Linked DNA regions of Homo sapiens. The protein of the gene in region 3 purifies or fractionates together with the protein of the main gene of each other region. This does not show direct contact. Each region holds a gene or a part of one and is shown on either strand. Other genes may lie near its edges.

The links.
Region 1: the proteins of NUP98 (region 3) and NUP43 purify together in Homo sapiens (affinity purification with mass spectrometry; 6 studies listed by BioGRID and IntAct, with this or other methods). This does not show direct contact.
Region 2: the proteins of NUP98 (region 3) and KPNA2 purify together in Homo sapiens (affinity purification with western blotting, with the first as the bait; 2 studies listed by BioGRID). This does not show direct contact.

What each region holds. Positions count from the first base shown.
Region 1 is NC_000006.12:149,736,530-149,743,568, forward strand, and holds part of NUP43 (nucleoporin Nup43), read right to left. Parts: intron 6,042-7,039; coding exon 5,861-6,041; intron 2,250-5,860; coding exon 2,114-2,249; intron 94-2,113; coding exon 1-93. UniProt on the Homo sapiens protein: Component of the Nup107-160 subcomplex of the nuclear pore complex (NPC). The Nup107-160 subcomplex is required for the assembly of a functional NPC.
Region 2 is NC_000017.11:68,038,696-68,045,734, reverse strand, and holds part of KPNA2 (importin subunit alpha-1), read right to left. Parts: intron 5,058-7,039; coding exon 4,969-5,057; intron 3,651-4,968; coding exon 3,382-3,650; intron 2,831-3,381; coding exon 2,736-2,830; intron 2,636-2,735; coding exon 2,372-2,635; intron 1,898-2,371; coding exon 1,664-1,897; intron 1,415-1,663; coding exon 1,232-1,414; intron 1-1,231.
Region 3 is NC_000011.10:3,787,518-3,794,556, forward strand, and holds part of NUP98 (nuclear pore complex protein Nup98-Nup96 isoform 1 precursor), read right to left. Parts: intron 1-7,039. UniProt on the Homo sapiens protein: Plays a role in the nuclear pore complex (NPC) assembly and/or maintenance. NUP98 and NUP96 are involved in the bidirectional transport across the NPC. May anchor NUP153 and TPR to the NPC.

The DNA.
Region 1 (7,039 bases), on a different chromosome or scaffold from region 3:
ATACTCAACATTCCATCTTGGCCACCAGTAGCTACAACATGCTGTTGGTTGGGATGTCTATCAACACAGTGGAGTGGCACTCGGTCACCAGTCCTTTTGTGGGAGATAACAATGACGTCAAAATCAAATAAAGTATAATTTATCTTTGTGTAACACAGGAAACACGTTTTTTGTTTGTTTTGAGACAAGGCCTCACTTACCCAGGCTGGAATGCAGCGCTGCAATCATTGCTTACTGTAGGCTCAAACTCCCTGGGCTCAGGTATCCTCCCACCTCAGCCTCCTGAGTTGCTGGGAGTACATGTGTGTACCATCATGCCTGGTTAACTTTTTGTATTTTTGTAGAGATGGGGTTTCTCCATGTTGCCCAGGTTGGTCTCAAACTCCCAGGCTCCAGTGATCTAGCCACCCTGGCCTTCCAAAGTGCTGGGATGACTGGTAACCGTGCCCAGCCTGTTTTTTTTTGTTTATTTTTTAAGAGACCAGGCTCAGTGGCTCACACCTGTAATCCCAGCACTTTGGGAGGCCAAGGCAGGTGGATGACTTGAGGTTCAAGACCAACCAGGCCAAAATGGCGAAACCCCATCTCTACTAAAAATACAAAAACTAGCCAGGCATGGTGGCACATGCCTGTAGTTCCAGCTACTTGGGAGGCTGAGGCATGAGAATCGCCTGAACCCAGTAGGCAGAAGTTGCAGTGAGCCAAGATCATGCCACTGCACTCCAGCCTGGGTGACAGAGTAAGACTCTGTCTCAAAGAAAAAAAAAAAAAAGAGAGACAGGGTCTTGTCTTGTCACCCAGGCTACAGTGCAATGGCCTATCTACAGCTTGCTGCAAGCTGGGCTCAAAAGAGCCTTTTGCCTCAGCCTCCCAAGTAGCTAGGACTACAGGCACATGCTACCGTGCCAGGCTATTTTAAGAAATTTTGGTAGAGATGGGGTCTCACTGTGTTGCCCTAGCTGGTCTCAAACTTCTCACCGCAGATAATCCTTCCAAAATGTTGGGATTACAGGCATGAGTCACCATGCTCAGCCAAGAAACATGTTTTATATGGTAACTAAGTGTCAACTTAGTGGCTGGAGCTACTGGCTGAATCTTTTTTTTATTTGAGACAGAGTTTTGTTCTTGTTGCCCAGGCTGGAGTGCAATGGCACGATCTTAGCTCACTGCAAACTCTGCCTCCCAGGTTCAAGTGATTCTCCTGCAAACTCTGCCTCCCAGGTTCAAGTGATTCTCCTGCAAACTCTGGCTCCCAGGTTCAAGTGATTCTCCTGCCTCAGCCTCCTGAGTAGCGGGGTCTATAGGCACGTGCCACCATGCCTGGCTAGTTTTTGTATTTTTAGTAGAGACGGGGTTTCACTGTGTTGGCCAGGCTGGTATTGAACTCCTGACCTCAAGTGATCTGCCTGCCTCGGCCTCCCAAAGTGCTGGGATTACAAGCATGAGCAACCACGCCCAGCCTGGCTGAATCTTAATGATACCAAAAAAAATGAACTAAATTAGATATATTTCTAAATAGTACAATTTTGAAATAATTCAAGGCCACAATTATTCATTTTCACTTCAATTTGGAGACATGGAATGAAAGACAATCCGATGGTAAGATGTACAAATCACATTTCCACTTGTTAAATTATTTAAAAACTCATACATCAATTATATACTAAATATTATTTATCATCTTATTTAATGCTTAGTTTATGTAACTATTTTTTCAGTGTGACACATTCTATTTTCTTACGAGAGAACGTTGTACACCTACAAAGGGGGATTTCTGCTCAGAAAAAATATTTGGAATTATATTTTTCCCCCAATCATTACATCTGGAGTATATTTTATCCATTAAACAATCATTGAAAGAGCAGAAATAAGTTCTCCATGAAATAATACAAACTTCAAAGAGTAAAGGCTCTGAATCACTATAACAAATAATTACTAAATGAAGCATAGTAGTACCAACCCCGTCAAGTTATGCTTGCTCTACCAAATTTTAATCAGGGATCTCCCTCTTAAAATGCAATTAAAATTCAATATGGCTTAAAGCCAGTAGCTATAAACAACCTAACACATTAATTTGTGGATTACATTACTGAAATTACAAATCAACACTTACAGTGACAATATCTGAGAAGGCTCATTTCCTTGTTGTCTGAAATCCCATATTTTCAACTGTCCAATTGAATTTACAGTAAGAATCTCAGGAGTTCGAAGAAAGGTTACAGCATGGAGTGTACTACTATCTGCATTGTCTAAAAATTTAAAAAATGGTAGTATGTGTTAATGAGTCCCCTTTTTTTCCCAAGAAAATCTTAAATCACACTCCTTTCATGGATTGATATATTACAATTTCCAGTAACTTATAATTTAAATTTCTATAGAAAAATGCATGGTTAATGTATATGTTTAAATGGATTCTCTTTGGATGGGAAAAACATTTACTCACAGGACATCTGAACTGTTTTCTGTTTCTTTTTTTTTTTTTTGCTCGTTGCCCAGGCTGGACTGCAATGGCGCGATCTCGGCTCACCGCAATCTCCACCTCTCGGATTCAAGCTATTCTCCTGCCTCAGCCTCCCAAATAGCTGGGATTAGAAATGTGCCACCACACCCAGCTAATTTTGTATGTTTAGTAGAGACTGGGTTTCTCCATGTTGGTCAGGCTGGTCTCGAACTCCCGACCTCAGGTGATCCACCAGCCTCGGCCTCCCAAAATGCTGGGATTACAGGCTTGAGCCACCACGCCTGGCCTACTGTTTTCTTTTTCTTTTTGTTTTTTGAGATGGATCTCGCTCTGTCACCCAGGCTAGAGGGCAGTGGCGTACTCTGGGCTCACTACAACCTCCGCCTCCCAGGTTCAAGCGATTCTCTTGCCTCGGCCTCTCTAGTACCTGGGATTACAGGTACATGCCACCATGCCTGGCTAATTTTTGTATTTTTAGTAGAGACGGAGTTTCACCATGTTGGCCAGGCTGGTCTCGAACTCCTGAGCTCAGGTGATCCGCCTCACTCAGCCTCCCAAAGTGCTAGAATTACAGGCATGACCCACCAGGCCCAGCCTTGAACTGTTTTCTAAATGGAAGGCTGAGTTTTCATACATTTCTTTTTAACTCTTAAGATTGTTACCCTGCATTTCTGAGAGAGTTGTTCAAGCTCCTCTAAACCCAATCTTACTTCCCACTAGTCCCTGACCTAGAACTTCCATTCTATTGAGCCAAACTCCAGTGCTTCCTACAGAGCTCATTCTAACCTTGTATTATTCTGCAGACTCATCCCAAATCTACTCATTTTCACCCTCATCAACTCTCGCCCTCTCCATGAAGTCACTCCTTATTGTCATAATGGTCCTTTTTGTTGATTTCCTAGTGTTTAGAACTTATGCCTCATAATTTAACATATACTTTATGGACTTTAGTTTGTGCCACTCCTCTACACTGCCACCAGGCAATGGTCATTAATTAACAAATAAGTAATGTCGCCCAGTGCAGTGGGTCATGTCTGTAATCTCAGCACTTCGGGAGGCCGAGGTGGGCAGACCACTTGAGCCCAGGAGTTTGACACCAGCCTGGGCAACATGGTGAAACCTCGTTTCTACAAAAATTAGCTGGGCATGGTGGTGTGCATCTGTAGTCCCACATCCCTGGAAGGCTGAGGTGGGAGGATCGCTTGAACCTGGGAGGCAGAGGTTGCAATGAGCTGGGATCATGCCACTGCACTCCAGCCTGGGTGACAGAGCAAGACCCTGTCTCAAAAAAAAAAAAAAAAAAAAAAAAAGTAATGCAACTTAACTCAGAAATGAAAATCATAATAAACAACACAAAAGGCCAGGTACAGTGGCTCACGCCTGTAATCCCAGCACTTTGGGAGGCCGAGGCAGGCGAATGACAAAGTCAAGAAATCAAGACCATCCTGGCCAACATGTTGAAAGCCTGTCTCTACTAAAAATACAAAAATTAGGTGGGTGTGGTGGCGTGCGCCTGTAGTCCCAGCTCCTCGGGAGGCTGAGGCTGGAGAATCGCGTGAACCCAGGAGGTGGAGGTTGCAGTGAGCTGAGGTCGTGCCATTGCACTCCAGCCTGGTGACAGAGCGTGACTCCATCTAAACAAACAAACAAACAAAACACACACATACAAAATGGATTCATGGGCTCAATTCCTAGAGATTCTGATTTAAAAGGTCTAGAGTGGTCGACAGTTAAAAAATTTCCTCAGAGAAGTCTGGCTGAAGCATAGTTCAGAACCAATACACTTAGTTTTCCACCTAAAAGATGTAACTTCTGTGATTTTGCATTACAGACTCTTTGCAATCTGGCCCCAGCTTACTTCTCTCTTGCTTCATCTTTCATCTCTCCTAAATAAATATCTAAAGTCGGGTCAAACTATACTTTTTGTCATTCTCTGAATGTCTTTATCCTGCCTCTGGCCTATTCCCTTTGTCTAGCACGCCATCTTTTAGTATTACTTATGGTCTAGAACCTAGAAAAACTATTAATTACTACCTGCTTCCAGATGTTTTATCTGATAATGCCCTCTCACCAAAAAAAAAAAGGTTTCTGTTTCCTCTAGTCAGTCATTCATACTGGTCTCATCAACATACTGTCTTGACAAAGGGATCCTGCCTTGCGTTGTGTGTGCACATGTGTACATATATTTTATATTTTTTTGAGACAGAGTCTTGCTCTGTCACCCAGGCTGGAGTGCGGTGGCATGATCTCGGCTCACTGCAGCCTCTCAGTCTCTCAGGTTCAAGCGATTCTCATGCCTCAGCCTCCCAAGCAGCTGGGATTACAGGCCTGTGCCACCATGCCCAGCTAATTTTTGTATTTTTAGTAGAGATGGGGTTTTGCAATATTGGTCAGGCTGGTCTCAAACTCTTGGCCTCAAATGATCTGCTCGCCTTTGCCTCCTAAGGTGCTGGGATTATAGGCGTCAGCCACTGTACCCGGCCATATATTTTTACATCCCTCCATCACTTAACATTGTGTTTACTTTTTTTTTTTAGATGAAGTCTCTCTCTGTCACAAGGCTAGCGTGCAGTGGTGTAATCTTGGCTCACTGCAACCTCTGCCTCCCGGGTTTAAGTGATTCTCCTGCCTCAGCCTCCCGAGTAGCTGGGACTACAGATGCACACCACCTCACCCAGCTTATTTTTGTTATTTTCAGTAGAGACGGATTTTCACCACGTTGGCCAGGATGATCTTGATCGCTTGACCTTGTGATCCGCCTGCATCACCCTCCCAAAGTGCTGGGGTAACAGGCATGAGCCACCGTGCCTGGCAGTATTTACTTAGTATATGGTAAGTGCTCAATTACTCTGATGGATGAAAGGAGTACAATGATTTTTCTTTTTTTGAAACAGGGTCTCCCTCTGTCACCCAGGTGGGACTGCAGAGTGCCATCATAGCTCACCACAACCTCCACCTCTCAGGTTCAAGCGATTCTCCTGCCTCAGCCTCCTGAGTAGCTGGGATTACAGGCATGCGCCACCACGCCTGGCTAACTTTTCTTTTTTTTTTTTTAAACAGAGTTTCACTTTTGTTGCCCTGGCTGGAGTGCAATGGTGCGATCTCTGCTCACTGCAACCTCCGCCTCCCAGGTTCAAGCGATTCTCCTGCCTCAGCCTCCCAAGTAGCTGGGATTACAGGCATGTGCCACCATGCCCAGCAAATTCTGTAGTTTTAGTAGAGACGGTGTTTCTCCATGTTGGTCAGGCTGGTCTCGGACTCCCGACCTCAGGTGATCCACCTGCCTCGGCCTCCCAAAGTGCTGCAATTGCCGGGGTGAGCCACCACACCCAGCCTAACTTTTGTATTTTTAGAAGAGACTAGGTTTCGCCATGTTGGCCAGGCTGGGATTTTTCTTACCTATGGTTCTTACAGCTTCCTTGTGATCAGCTCTGAAGAGATTTATTCGACCATCCTCTCCAACTGTAACGATTTCTGGGTTGTTGCACACAACACCTGTACATGGTGCACTGCTATAGGAAGGACTGCCAGGGCCTGTGTGGTAGTGAGCTGTAGTCCACTGCTGGTTGACTGACAGAGTCTAGGCATCAGAAATGAGGATACTATTAAAGCAAAGTACTAAGGAATTAGCACTTCTTCCCAACAAGAGTATCTTTAAATTCTGACTCACACCCTTCTACAAGAATAAATCTCTCCTTTTTCCTTTAGAATAATGAAATCTAGAAACTACTGCCATCAAAGTTCTATATACACTGAATTAGATACAAAAGGAATATTGTTTAATAATGCCCCACATTTATCTCAAACTACAGTAATGACTTTTAGGGATCAAGCAGTTGGATGTTCAAAGGCAACTCTTTGTATTCTTATGGGAATTAACCTACATCTAAAATATACATATCTGGCCCACGGCTGTCGCTCATGCCTGTAATCCTAGCACTTTGGGAGGCCAAGGCAGGCAGATCATCTGAGATCAGGGGTTCGAGACCAGCCTGGCCAATATGGCAAAATCCCGTCTCTACTAAAAATACAAAAATTTGCTAGGTGTGGTGGCACGCGCCTGTAATCCCAGCTACTTGAAAGGCTGAGGTGTGAGAATTGCTTGAACCAGAGAGATGCAGGTTGCAGTGAGCAGAGATCGCACCACTGCACTCCAGCCTGGGTGACAGAGAGAGACTCTGTCTCAAAAAAAAAAATAAATAAATAAAATAAAATAAAATAAATAAAATATTAATCTCTATAGCTTTTTCTAAATGACTCAAAAAAACCCTTAACATGAACTGGGACTTATATTAACTAGGCATGTCTATTAGAAAAGGTTACCTTTGGCTGGGCGCGGTGGCTCACACCTGTAATCCCAGCACTTTGGGAGGCCGAAGAGGGCTGATCACCTGAGGTCAGGTGAGATCAGCCTGACCAACATGGAGAAACCCCGTCTCTACTAAAAATATAAAATTAGCCGGGCGTGGTGGCACGTGCCTGTAATCCCAGCTACTTGGGAGGCTGAGGCAGGAGAATCACTTGAACTCAGAAGGTGGAGGCTGCGGTGAGCCGAGACTGCGCCACTGCACTCCAGTG
Region 2 (7,039 bases), on a different chromosome or scaffold from region 3:
TCTGGTTTTATTTTAATGAAGAAAACATCAATAATTTGAATATTGATACGTCAGGCAGAAATAAGCACCTAACAATTCCTTCATCAAGCCTATCATAGTTTTATGTCCATTTTATATTTTGTTGACACTCAATGTGATTGGATCTGTACCTGCTTTTAGCACTACTTCAACTGGAGCCAAAGATCTTACAATCAGTAGTAGCTCCCAACCTTTTCTATGTATCAAAATCATGCGGGCAACTTTTAAAACAACACTACATTCCAGTTCAACTGGTCTGCTATGGGAACAGGGGTGTATTGTTTCATAAAGCATCCTATGTCATCACAAGGTGTAGTCAAGGTGTCTAAGGGCAAAGATGGCCTATGGAGTGCTAAACTAAACGTCCCCAAACAGAATGTGTGTTGGTATTAAGGATTTACTGGACATATGGAATGGTATGTAGGTTAGTTTTCCTTTAAATTTTCAACCTTAAAGAGATACATAAATATCTATAGATGAAAAAAACAGATTTGCTTCAAAATAACTTAGGGGATTAGATGAGGGGAAGAAGAAATACTGGCCACATACTGACAAATTATTTATACACAGTAACAGATACGCTAGCATCCATTATTGAAGGCTCAACTTTTTTTTTTTTTTTTTTTAAGACAGTTTCACTCTTGCCCAAGCTGGAGTGCAATAACACAAACTTGGCTCACTGCAACTTCCGCTTCCCGGGTTCAAGCGATTCTCCTGCCTCAGCCTTCTGAGTAGCTGGGATTATAGGCGCCCACCACCACACATGGCTAATTCTTGCATTTTTAGCAGAGACAGGGTTTCGCCATGTTGGCCAGGCTGGTCTCGAACTCTTGACCTCAGGTGATCCACCCACCTCGGACTTCCAAAGTGCTGTGATTACAGGCATGAGCCACCGTGCCTGGCCAAGTCATTCAAATTTAATGTCACCAAAAATCGGTATGAAATTGGGAAATTAAATCAACCAAGTAAACAGGTGTGATGAGTCCACATAAGCGCCTGACTCCGATTCAGGTCACACCATCCACTTGTCGTCTCTTTTGTATCTTTTATAATGCCTGCCTCATTTTTAATCAAAGGGGTGGCCACATAAACAGGCTTTCTGATTCTGTGGCTTACTAGTGAGTAAACTTACAGCTGCCCTCCCCCAAGTCTAAATAGTAAACTGATTATTATCAAGTCCAAATTCAAACAAAGCCACCTTGATAGGACTTACCTGAAAGATATTTGAAATGGCATCCAGGATAACCAGAATAATCTTGGTATCTTTTGCAGTTAAGAGGTTCATCAACGGTTCTATTATGCCACAGTGAACAAGGTACACAATCTGTTCAACTGTTCCACCACTGGTATAGTTGGTCACGGCCCACACAGCTTCCTTTTGTGTCTTAAAATCTGCCTATTAAACATAAGGAAATGGTTTTATTTCAGAACAGTTGCACAAATAAGATTCCAAGAGTACTTTTTCACAAAAACAATGACTGAAAGTACCAAGGTTCTATCCAACCTTAAGTAAAAGGGGTTACTGGGTATTGTTCAGCAAAGGACTCCTAGTAGAACCCAAGATTCTTGCACGTGAAGAAGCTTATCAAGCACAGCTTTCTATAAATACTAAAAATGACTTGATTAAATCCTAAGACTTCGTTACCTTAGAGAGAACACTGACAAGGAATGGGACTAATCCATGATTCACAACTTGCTGTATCTGGTCCTGGCGGCCGGCTGTGATGTTTGACATTGTCCACGTAGCTTCCTTCTGAATGTTAGTTTTGGGGTTGGTGAGCAGGCTGGGAAAGACGGCGAGTGCTCCTGCATCAATCACAACCTGAGTCTGTTCATCTGTACCAGTGACAATATTCCCTATGGCTCTTAGGGCAGGAGTCTGAAAAAAAAAAAATATGTTGATGCTGGTTATTTTTTCCCCAGCACTTTAGAAATTCTATACCCTAAAAGTTTTAACAAGAGGCCCATCATGGCCTGAAATAGGCAATATTTCAATATTACTATCAACTGATTATGCTTTTTTTTTTTTTTTTGAGAGACTGGAGTATAATGGCACGATTTCGGGTCACTGCAGCCTCTGCCTCCCAGATTCAAGCAATTCTCCTGCCTTAGCCTCCCGAGTAGTTGAGATTACAGACACGTGCCACCATGTCCAGATAATTTCTTTGTATTTTTAGTAGAGATGGGCTTTCACAATGTTGGCCAGGCTGGTCTCGAACTCCTGACCTCAGGTGATCCACCTGCCTTGGTCTCCCAAAGTGCTGGGATTACACAGGTGTGAGCCACCACTACCACGCCCAGCCCTGATCATGCTTCTTATACTTATGTCCTAATCTACAAGTAAATAACTTACCACAATTGGCAATTCAGAAGCTCCTAGAAGCTTCACAAGTTGGGGCACAACTCCTGTTTTCACCACCATGCCAATTCGTTCATTTGGACCATCAGTAAGGTAGGAAATAGCCCAGCAGGTATCTGCTAATACTTCTGGATCATCATGATGCAGGAGCCGAACTAAGGTAGGAAGAATCTGCTCAACAGCATCTATCGGGGGTGCAGGATTCTTGTTGCGGCAAAGATTAGAAAGTGTCCAGGTAAGATTACGTAAGTAGCCACACTGGGGGAAAAAAAATAGGCAATGAGAGGTTCTGTCTTTTGAGAAGATGGGGGAAATTAGAATGAAGAAGTGAGTAACTTTACTCATGTTAGTAACTTACTGCTAAAGATGACATATCAGGAACTGCAAGGAGAGCCAACAGTGGGTCAACTGCACCGTACTTAATAACCAAGTCTCGGAACACTGAGCCATCACCTGAAAAAAAAGGCAAGATTAATTTTTTTTTTTTTTTTTTTGAGACGGAGTTTCTCTCTGTCGCCCAGGCTGGAGTGCAGTGGCGCGATCTCGGCTCACTGCAAGCTCCGCCTCCTGGGTTCAAGCCATTCTCCTGCCTCAGCCTCAGGCGCCCGCCGCCACGCCCGGCTAATTTTTTGTATTTTTAGTAGAGGTGGGGTTTCACTGTGTTAGCCAGGATGGTCTCAATCTCCTGACCTCATGATCCACCCGCCTCTGCCTCCCAAAGTGCTGGGATTACAGGCGTGAGCCACCATGCCCGGCCGAGGCAAGATTAATTTTATTACCTTGTCCAACACCATCAATTTTCAGTGACTGAATGCACCAGCAAAAACTCCCAAACTTACTTAGATGGCCCTCTGCTGCCTTTGTAAAGACGACACTTTCATTCCTAATAAGGGCTTGAAAGCAAGCTCAAAACTTGACAAAGTCACTATTACTTATAACAAGGCCTTTCTTCCAACTAATTACGATTAGATACATTCAGTCAAAAGAACTTCAAGTCCAAGTACCTGCAATGTTTCCTAGAGCCCAGACAGCTTGTTCACTGATGTGAGCATGGGGAGATGCCAACAGAGAAATGAATGCTGGGATGGCACCTCCATCTACCACAGCCTTGGTTTGTTCTGATGTCCCAGAAGCAATGTTAGTGAGTGCCCAAGCAGATTCAAACTGAATGGGACTACAATCAGTTCTGCCCAAGAAGGACACAAATTTCGGAATCAAACCAGCCCGGATTATGTTGTCTATGGGGGGCTGTTTTTCTCTGGAAAGTAGTTTCCTAAAGGGGAACAAAAAGAGAAATAAAAGTTGACAGTGATTAACAAAAGGAGTTTGTGTAAAAACCAATATAAAATGCAATTCAAGAGTTTAGAACTTCAGACAACCTTTTAAGTAAATCACTAAATGCTGAGACATTCTGGAACCTAAGAGAAGCTGAACAGATTACTTGTATGGTGCTATGTATGCGGTATAATTAACTACCATTTTTCCAGAAATTAATGTAGATTACCCTCCTTTCCATCCCTGCAGAAATCTACTCCAGATCTTGTCACTTTTTAAAAAAACTTTTCACATTCTGACAGGGTTATACTCTCACTGAATTTGTTCTGATAGTTGTGGTTAAGCACATTTTGTTTTTTTGAAATAGGATCTCACTCCACTCAGGCTAGAGTGCAGTGCCACGATCACAGCTCACTGCAGCCTCGACCTCCTGGGCTCAAGTGATCCTCCCACCTCAGCCTCCTTAGTAGCTGGGACGACAAGTGTGCACCGCCACACCCAAGTTATTTTATTTATTTATTTTTTGAGACAGAGTCTTGCTCTGTCGCCATGCTGGAATGCAGTGGCAAGATCTCAGCTCACTGCAACCTCCGCCTGCTGGGTTCAAGTGATTATTGTGCCTGAGCCTCCCAAACACGTGAGATTACAGGCATGTGCCACCACACCCAGCTAATAATTTCTTTTGTAGAAACTGGCTCTCACCATGTTGCCCAGGCTGGTCTCAAACTCCTGGGCTCAAGTAACCGACCCCTTGGCCTCCCAAAGTGCTGGGATTACAGGAATGAGCCACAGCACCCAGCCTAGAACTTTTTAATGATAATTTACCATTGAAATTTTTCTTCTGCACACTGTCAAGCTATAGAACTTATTAATCCTTTCTATTATATCATAAATATCCACGTATAGTGGGAGGTAAAGGTCAAATTATACTTATCTCCTAAATGGATCTATCATTCTAAATGCATGTCTCAATCCCACTTACTATTTATTTCTTCCTTCCCCTGCCAGTGACTTGAAACATTACTTTGGTAAAAACTTTATGGGCAGGTGCAATGGCACACACCTGTGATCCCAGCACTTCAGGAGGCTGAGGTCAGAGGACTGCTTGAACCCAGGCATTCCAGGCCAGCCTGGGCAAAATAGCAAGGCCTCCCCTCTCAAAAAAATTAATAAATAAAAAATACTATTTGGCTTATGGCTGGCTGGCCTAATCTTTCCTTGTACTATCTGTCTGTCCCTTCCTGCCCCACCCCCCAAAAAAAAATCTAAAAACACAAATTTCTTAGGCTACCCATGCTATCGCAGACAAGACTTACCTGGCAGCTTGAGTAGCTTGGAGCTGATTTTCCACATTGCTGCTATTTATGCCTTTGACAATGTCATCAACAGACCAATTTACAGTGCCCTAGAAGAAAAGTGAAAGTTTGCACATTATCATTAAGATTAAATACAAACAATAAAATCCACACTTACTTGTGAAGGCAAGTGTAAACATCGTTAGGCTTATAGCCAGCTACTAAATATTTAGCCCTACATTTAATTTTGCCTGTTAAATATTCATTATTTTATATGTAGAACAGTTTCCAAACTTGTTGTCATGGACTCACTGGAGTCTCAAGTTATGGAGTATCCAAGTGTTTTGTCGCTAAAAAAGGCAGCTTTGAACAATTTTAAAAAATGAACGAGAAGGACAGGCATGGTGGCTCACACCTGTAAGCCTAGCACTTTGGGAGGCTCAGGAGGGAGGATGGCTTGAGCTCAGGTGAGACCAGCCTGAGCAACACAGTGAGACCTCCCAACAAAAAAAAAAAAAAAAAAAAAATATCCAGGCATGGTGGTGTTTGCCTGTCGCCATACAAGACCTTGTCTCAAAAATCAAGAATCAGAGCAGACTGAAGATTATTTCTACGTTAGTCTCAATCACTTGCATTCAGATATACTTTGAGGGAGAAAGACATGAAGTCATAGGCAACGTTCTGAGGATTTTCTTTTCTTTTTTTTTTTGAGACGGAGTTTCACTCAATCCCCAGGCTGGAGTGCAGTGGCATGATCTTGGCTCACCACCACCTCCGCCTCCTGGGTTCAAGCGATTCTCCTGCCTCAGCCTCCCAAGTACCTGAGATTATAGGCATGCGCCACCATGCCTGGCTAATTTTTTTTTTTTGTATTTTTAGTAGAGACGGGGTTTCTCCATGTTGGTCAGGCTGGTCTCGAACTGCCAACCTCAGGTGATCCACCTGCCTCAGCCTCCCAAAGTGCTGGAATTACAGGCATGAGCTACCATGCCCGACTTTTTTTTTTGGAGACAGAGTTTTGCTCTTCTTGCCCAGGCTGGAGTGCAATGGCGTGATCTCGGCTCACCACCGCCTCCACCTCCCGGGTTCAAGCGATTCTCCTGCCACAGCCTCCTGAGTAGCTGGGATTACAGGCATGCGCCACGATGCCCAGCTAATTTTGTATTTTTAGTAGAGATGGAGTTTCTCCATGTTGGTCAGGCTGGTCTCAAACTCCCGACCTCAGGTGATCCACCTGCCTCGGCCTCCCAAAGTAATGGGATTACAGGTGTGAGCCACCACACCCGGCCGAGGATTTTCATATCTAATTTTATAATCTACATATTTCCACGGTTAAGTGTTGCTGCAAATATAAATGGTTTATGTTTGGCTGGGCGAAGTGGCTCGCGCCTGTAATCCCAGCACTTTGGGAGGCCGAGGCGGGTGGATCACCTGAGGTCAGGAGTTCGAGACCAGACTGGGAAACACGGTGAATCCCCGTGTCTACTAAAAATGCAAAAATTAGCTAGACATCGTGGTGATCCCCTGTGATCCCAGCTACTTGGGAGGCTGAGGCAGGAGAGTCACTTGAACCCAGGAGACGGAGGCTGCAGTCAGCCAAGATCGTACCACTGCACTCCAGCCTGGGCAACAAACCAAGGTTTTGTCTCAAAACAAAAAAAAAAGGAAGCATATTGTGAGAAAAACATGTAGGAAAGGGCCCAGATGAAAGATAAATTTGAAAATCTAAGTTAAGTCTACTTTATGGAAGGCCTTCATAGAGTAGGGATTTCTTAGAGACAGGGTCTCACTGTCACCCAGCATGGGGTGCAGTGGTGCAATCACAGCTCACTGCAGCCTCAAAATCCCGGGCTCAAGTGATTCTTCTGTCTCAGCCCCCTGAATACCTAGGACTAAAGGCCGGCGCCACCACACCCAGCTAACTTTACTTTTTATAGAGACGAGGTCTTCCTATGTTGCCTAGGCTGGGCTCAAACTCCTGGCCTCCAGTGATCCTCCCATTTCAGCTTCCCAAAGTGTTGGAATTACAGGCATGAACCACCATGCCCAGCTGGAGTATGGATTTATTTTATTTTTATTTTTTTCCTTGAGA
Region 3 (7,039 bases):
GGTTGCAGTGAGCCAAGATCATTCCAGCCTGGGTAACAGAGCAAGACGCTGTCTCAAACAAAAAAAAAGAACATCATACCCTCTCTAAAAATCGTATCTCCTTTTCTTCCTAAAAATTGTTGCTCAAGCCTCACCTGCTTTCACAAGACTGCCGCACACCCTTAAACTCTTTATTAGTATAAAAACACTTTAAAGGCCGGGCACGGTGGCTCATGTCTGTAATCCCAGCACTCCGGGAAGCAGAGGCGGGCAGATCACGAGGTCAAGAGATCGAGACCATCCTGGCCAACATGGTGAAACCCCGTCTCTACTGAAAATACAAAAATTAGCTGGGCATGGTGGTGTGTGCCTCTAGTCCCAGCTACTTGGGAGGCTGAGGCAGGAGAATCACTTGAATCCAGGAGGCGGAGGTTGCAGTGAGCCGAGATCGGGCCACTGCACTCCAGCCTGGCGACGGAGCCAGAGTCCATCTCAAAAAAAATAAAACACTTTACTTCCCCTCTTCCTTTCCAACCCCGATTACGTAAACTAGTGTCTCTCAGCTGCTTTTAGTTATGCAATATATTTGTTATTATACCTGCCACCTGAGTGTTTTACCTGTCTGCTGCTCTGGGTAAAAAAAATGTCTTGACTTTGCTCACTGGGTGTAAATTAATTTTAAATAGTCCATAGCATCTTACATAAGCTCCTTCCTAATAGCACTGAGCAGCATTTTTTTCATCCCCTTAACATAACCCTAATCATTTTAGAGTGAAGAGTATATTAGCTTTGGTGTGAGACATCTGTATTTAAAACTGTCACTCGGCTAGGCGCGGTGGCTCACACCTGCAATCCCAACACTTTGGGAGGCCAAGGCTGGTGGATCACCTGAGCTCAGGAGTTCGAGCCCAGCCTGGCCTACATGGTGAAACCCCCTGTCTCTACTAATACAAAAATTAGCCTACATGCCTGTAATCCCAGCTACTCAGGAGGCTGAGGCAGGAGAACTGCTTGAACCTGGGAGGTGGAGGTTGCTGTGAGCCCAGATTGCGCCACTGCACTACAGCCTGGGTGACAAGAGTGAAATTCTGTCTCCAAAAATAAATAAATAAATAAATTTCTAAAAGTGAAAGGATATATACCTAACTATTAAGAATCACTGTATAAGGCTGGGCACGGTGGCTCACGCATGTAATCGCACCATTTTGGGAGGCCCAAAGTGGGCGGATCACCTGAGGTCGGGAGTTCAAGACCAGCCTGAGAAGCAAGGAGAAACCCCGTCTCTACTAAAAAATACATAATTAGCCAGTTGTCGTGACGCATGCCTGTCATCCCAGCTATTCGGGAGGCTGAGGCAGGAGAATCGCTTGAACCCAGGAGGCAGAGATTGCAGTGAGCCGAGATCGTGCCACTGCACTCCAGCCTGGATAACAACAGTGAAACTCCATCTCAAAAAAACAACCAAAAAAAAACCTGTCAGTTACCATCATTGACTCTTAAAATCTAAAGTTAATTCAAAATAAAAAGTTAAAAAAATAAAAAATTCCTCTGCCACTTGCTACTGTAAGTCATAATATTCAATCTCTCAGACCTCAATTTCTACATCTGAACAATAGGGATTGTACAGCCTACACCAAAAGACTGGTAGGAGGACAAAGCTGCCTCAAACTAGAGCTCCTCAAAAGCAGCATTTTGTTTATTTTTCAACAGGTATTTTACAGGTATTTATAATTTAAAAAGCATAATAAATGTCCCCTCACTCTAAACTTTGGTTCAATGGCTAGCTAGAATGCCATAATTTCTTATTTCTCAATGCTTAAGTGTCATCCACTGATCACTCAGCACAAGCATAAAGCACCACTGCAAACAAAAACAAATCCCATCCCTGCACAAACACAATATATTGAGATTACTATGATCATTCAACCTCTTCCATCTATCTCACATCTCTGTCTTTATTCCCAACTATCCATCTTTTTAATTTACAAATTCATTTACCTATTTCTTTTTTTTTTTTTTTTTTTTGGTTTTTGTTTTGAGACAAGGTCTCACTCTGTTGCCCAGGCTGGAATGCAGTGGCATGATCATGGCTCACTGCAGCCTGGACCTCCTGGGTTCAACTGATCCTCCCACTTTAGCCTCCCAAAAAGCTGAGACCACAGGCATGTGCCACTATGTTGCCCAGGCTGGTCTCTAACTCCTGGACTCAAGCCATCTTCCTGCTTTGGCCTCCTAAAGTGCAGGGATTATAGGTGAGCCCCTGTGCCAGGCCCATTTACTTATTTTTTATTTATTTATTTTTTTGAGACAGTCTTGCTCTGTTGCCAGGCTGGAGTGCAGTGCAGTGGCATGATCTCAGCTCACTGCAACCTCTGCCTCCTGGGTTCAAGCGATTTCCCTGCCTCAGCCTCTCGAGAAGATGGGACTACAGGCACCCACCACTATACCGGGTTAATTTTTTGTATTTTAGTAGACATGGGGTTTCACCAAGTTGGCCAGGATGGTCTCGATCTTCCGACCTCGTGATCCGCCCACCTCAGCCTCCCAAAGTGCTAGCATTACAGGCGTGAGCCACGGCACACAGCCCCATTTACCTATCAAGAAGGTTGAGTGTGCAAATACTAGTAAGCTCTGTGTCAAACGAAGTAAAATTAAAGATGTGAAGTGATGAGTGACTGTAACATTTACTGAGGATGAACTGTTCCCTTCACGAACAGACCAGCCCTAATTCAGGTGCTCAATTCTTTTCCCCTTGACTAATGATTTTCAAATATTTTTTAGCCATGAAACCCGACATATAAAACAGACATAAGCAGAAGCTGCTCTGGCTGAAGTGAAGAGGGAGTAGGTACAGTAGAACCCCACCAGCTCTGCCCTATGAAGCAGCTTAGGGCTCTATGAACCAATGTGAAATATTGTTCTAGATTAGTGGTTCTCAAAGTGTGACCCAAAGACCCCTAAAAGTCCCCAACACTTCTTCCAGGGGTTCAATGAAATCAAAACCATTTTCACAATAAAACTAAGACACTTTGCCCTTTTTCTTTACTGTTCTGACCTCTGTGCTGATGTGCAAAATCAATGGTGTGCAAAAATGCTGGGAACTCAGCATGAATCAAAGCAACAACCCCAAATGGTGCTGAACTAACACTCACTGAATTCTTCACTGTCACCCATTTACAATATAAAAAATTCCACTTTCACTTAAAAGGGTCCTTAATGAAGCAGCAAAAATTATTAGTTGTATTATTTCTCAACACTACAGCACAATTCTTTTTAATTCAGTATTGGGAAATACTCAAAAACTTCTGCTTACTGAAATACAAAGGATATCAAGGGGCAAACCACCTGTAATTACTTTTGAAAGCTAAATGTAGTTGTTTTTCTCATGGAACACCATTTTAATTTTTTTTTTTTTTTGAGACAGAGTCTGGCTCTGTTGCCCAGGCTGGAGTGAAGTGACGCAATCTCGGCTGACTGCAAGCTCTGCCTCCCAGGTTCACGACATTCTCCTGCGTCAGCCTTCCGAGTAACTGGGATTACAGGCGCCCGCCACCACGCCCAGCTAATTTTTTGTATTTTTAGTAGAGACGGGTTTTCACCGTGTTAGCCAGGATGGTCTCGATCTCCTGACCTTGTGATCCGCCCCCCTCAGCCTCCCAAAGTGCTGGGATTACAGGCGTGAGCCACTGCGCCCCGCCCACCATTTTAATTTCAAAGAATGATTGACAAACTATGGTTATTAAGATTTGGTACTGGCTGGGCATGGTGGCTCACACCTGTAATCCTAGCAGTTTGGGAGGCCGAGGCAGGTGGATCACTTGAAGTCAGCAGTTCAAAACCAGCCTGGCCAACATGGTGAAACCTCATCTCTACTAAAAATACAAAAAATTAGCCAGGCATGGTGGTGGACGCCTGTAATCCCAGCTACTTGGGAGGCGGAGACAGGAGAATCAGTGGAACCCAGAAGGCGGAGGTTGCAGTGAGTTGAGATCCCACCATTGTACTCCAGCCTGGGGGAAAGACCGAGACCTCGTCTCAAAAAAAAAAAAAAAAAAAAAAAAAGAAAGGCTGGGCATGGTGGCTCATGCCTATAATCCCAGCATTTCGGGAGACCGAGGCAGACAGATCACGAGGTCAGGAGTTGAAGACCAGCCTGACCAACATGATGAAACCCTGTCTCTGCTAAAAATACAAAAATTAGCCATGTGTGGTGGCACCTGCCTGTAATCCCAGCTACTCAGGAGGCTGAGGCAGGAGAATTGCTTGAACCCAGGAGGCGAGGTTACAGTGAGCCGAGATCACGACACTGCACTCCAGCCTAGGCGACAGAGTGAGACTACATCTAAAAAAAAAAAAAAAAAAATTTTGATACAAAAATTACAACTACAAAAACATGCATTCGGCTGGGCGCAGCGGCTCATGCCTGTAATCCCAGGACTTTGGGAGGCGGAGGTGAGCGGATCACGAGGTCAGGAGATCGAGACCTTCCTGGCTAACACGGTGAAACCCCATCTCTACTAAAAATACAAAAAATTAGCCGGGCATGGTGGCACGCCCCTGTATTCCCAGCTACTCGGGAGGATGAGGCAGGAGAATGGCGTGAACCCGGGAAGTGGAGCTTGCAATAAGCCGAGATCGTGCCACTGCACTCCAGCCCAGGTGACAGAGTGAAACTCCATCTCAAAAAAAAAAAAAAAAAAAAAAAAAAAAAAACATGTATTCACCACTATCAGGTCATAAGCTTCTCAATTCTTAAAAAGACTTATCTGATGAGATGGGTGGAAACAGAAACAACTGTATAATTAAATTTGTCAACATCTGGAATATCTGGGCCAGGCCTATGGGGCTCATGCCTGTAATGCCAGCTCTTTAGGAGGCCGAGACGGGAAGATCACTTGATGTCAGGAGTTCCAGACCAGCCATGGTCAACATGTTGAAACCCCGTCTCTACAAAAAATACAAAAATTAGCCAGATGTGGTGGTACACACCTGTAGTCCCAGCTACTCAGGAGGCTGAGGCATGAGAATCACCTGAACCCGGAATGCAGAGGTTACAGTGAGCCAAGATTGTGCCACAACACTCCAGCCTGGGTGACAAAGCAAGACTCTGTCTCAAAAACAAAGAAACAAACAAACAAAAAAACAACAAAAAAAGAAGATCTGCATAACTCAGTAAATCAATAATTTCAAAATCAACATGCATCATGTTATAAAATCACAGAAGTGTAAAGGTCTATTCAAAGTACAACACAGACCAATGGTTTTTAATACAACAGAATACAAAAGTTCAATGACACAGTTTCAGATTCCATACTGTAATGAACCTTTAAAAAGGTTTGAGGCCGGGCACGGTGGCTCACGTCTGAAATCCCAGCACTTTGGGAGGCCAAGGCAGGCGGATCACTTGAGGCCAGGAGTTCAAACCCAACATGGCGAAACCCCGTCTCTACTAAAAATACAAAAAATTAGCCCAGCGTGGTGATGTGCACCTGTAGTCCCAGCAACTCAGGAGGCTGAGGCAGGAGAATTGCTTGAACCTGGGAGGCGGAGGTTGGAGTACGCTGAGATAGCGCCACTGCACTCCGACTTGGGCGACAGAGCACGACTCCGTCTCAAAAAAACAAACAAATAAAAAGGTTTGACTGTAGTGTCAAAGAGCAGTTAGAATTATCTGAAAAGGCCATTAAAATACTCCTCTCTTTTCCAACTATGTATCTGTATGAGGCTAGATTTTCTTCACATACTTCAAACAAAACAACATAATATATGTCAGAATGCAAAGACTGGTACATTTAGAGGTCTTCTTTTTATGATATGGAGTCTTGCTCTGTCACCCAGGATGAAGCACAGTGGTGCAATCTGCGCTCACTGCAACCTCTGCCTCCTGGGTTCAAGCGATTCTCTGCCTCAGCCTCCCAGTAGCTGGGACTACAGGTGCGTGTCACTGTGCCCAACTAATTTTTCTATTTTTAGTAGATTCAGGGTTTCACCATATTAGCCAGGATGGTCTCAAACTCCTAACCTTGTGATCCACCCGCTTCAGCCTCCCAAAGTGCTGGATTACAGGTGTGAGCCACCACACCCGGCCAGCTACCACTATATTTTTAAGAATTTTTCTTTCCTTACTAAAAAAAACTGCAAGTATTTCCCATTACACTGAATTAAGTACAAATTCCTCAATGTGGTAATTATGGCTGGGCATGGTGGCTCACGCCTGTAATCCCAGCACTTTGGGAGGCCAAAGCGGGTGGATTGCTTGAGGTCACGAGTTCCAGATCAGCCTGGCCAACATGGTGAAAGCCTGTCTCTACTAAAAATACAAAATTAGCTGGGTGTGGTGGCACGCACCTGTAATCCAGCTACTCGGGAGGCTGAGGCAAGAGAATTGCTTGAACCCACGAGGCGGAGGTTGCGGTGAGCCAAGATCACATCATTGCACTCCAGCCGGGGCAACAAGAGCGAAACTCTGTCTCAAAAAATAAATAAATAAATAAATACATGTGAAATATTTTCACTAAAGTAGTAGTCTCAATCAAGGGCAATTCTGACAATTTCTTCAGACATTCCTGATCGTTACAACCTGCAGAGGATGTGTTATGGGTATCTAATGGGTAGAGGTAGGAATGTTGCTAAATATCCTACAATATACAACAGAGCCCCCACGATAATTATCTGGCCCAAAGTCTCAAAGTTCCAAAGCTGAGAAACCTTTCTCTAGAGCCATACTGTGCCAAATACTTACGGTCAATTTCAAACAAAAAGAATGCACCAAGTTCTCAGGAAATGTTTACCTACCTTGCCTCTAATACATACTGTTTTGTTTTGTTTCTTTTCTTTTTTTCTTGAGTCAGAGTCTCGCTGTCGCCCAGGCTGGAGTGCAGTGGCACAATCTTGGCTCACTGCAACCTCCGCCTCCCGAGTTCAAGCAATTCTCCTCCCTCAGCCTCCCGAGTAGCTGGGGCAATGGGCGCATGCTGCCACGCCCAGCTAATTTTTCATATTTTTTTTTAAGTACAGATGGGGTTTCACCATGTTGCCCAGGCTGGTCTCAAACTCCTGA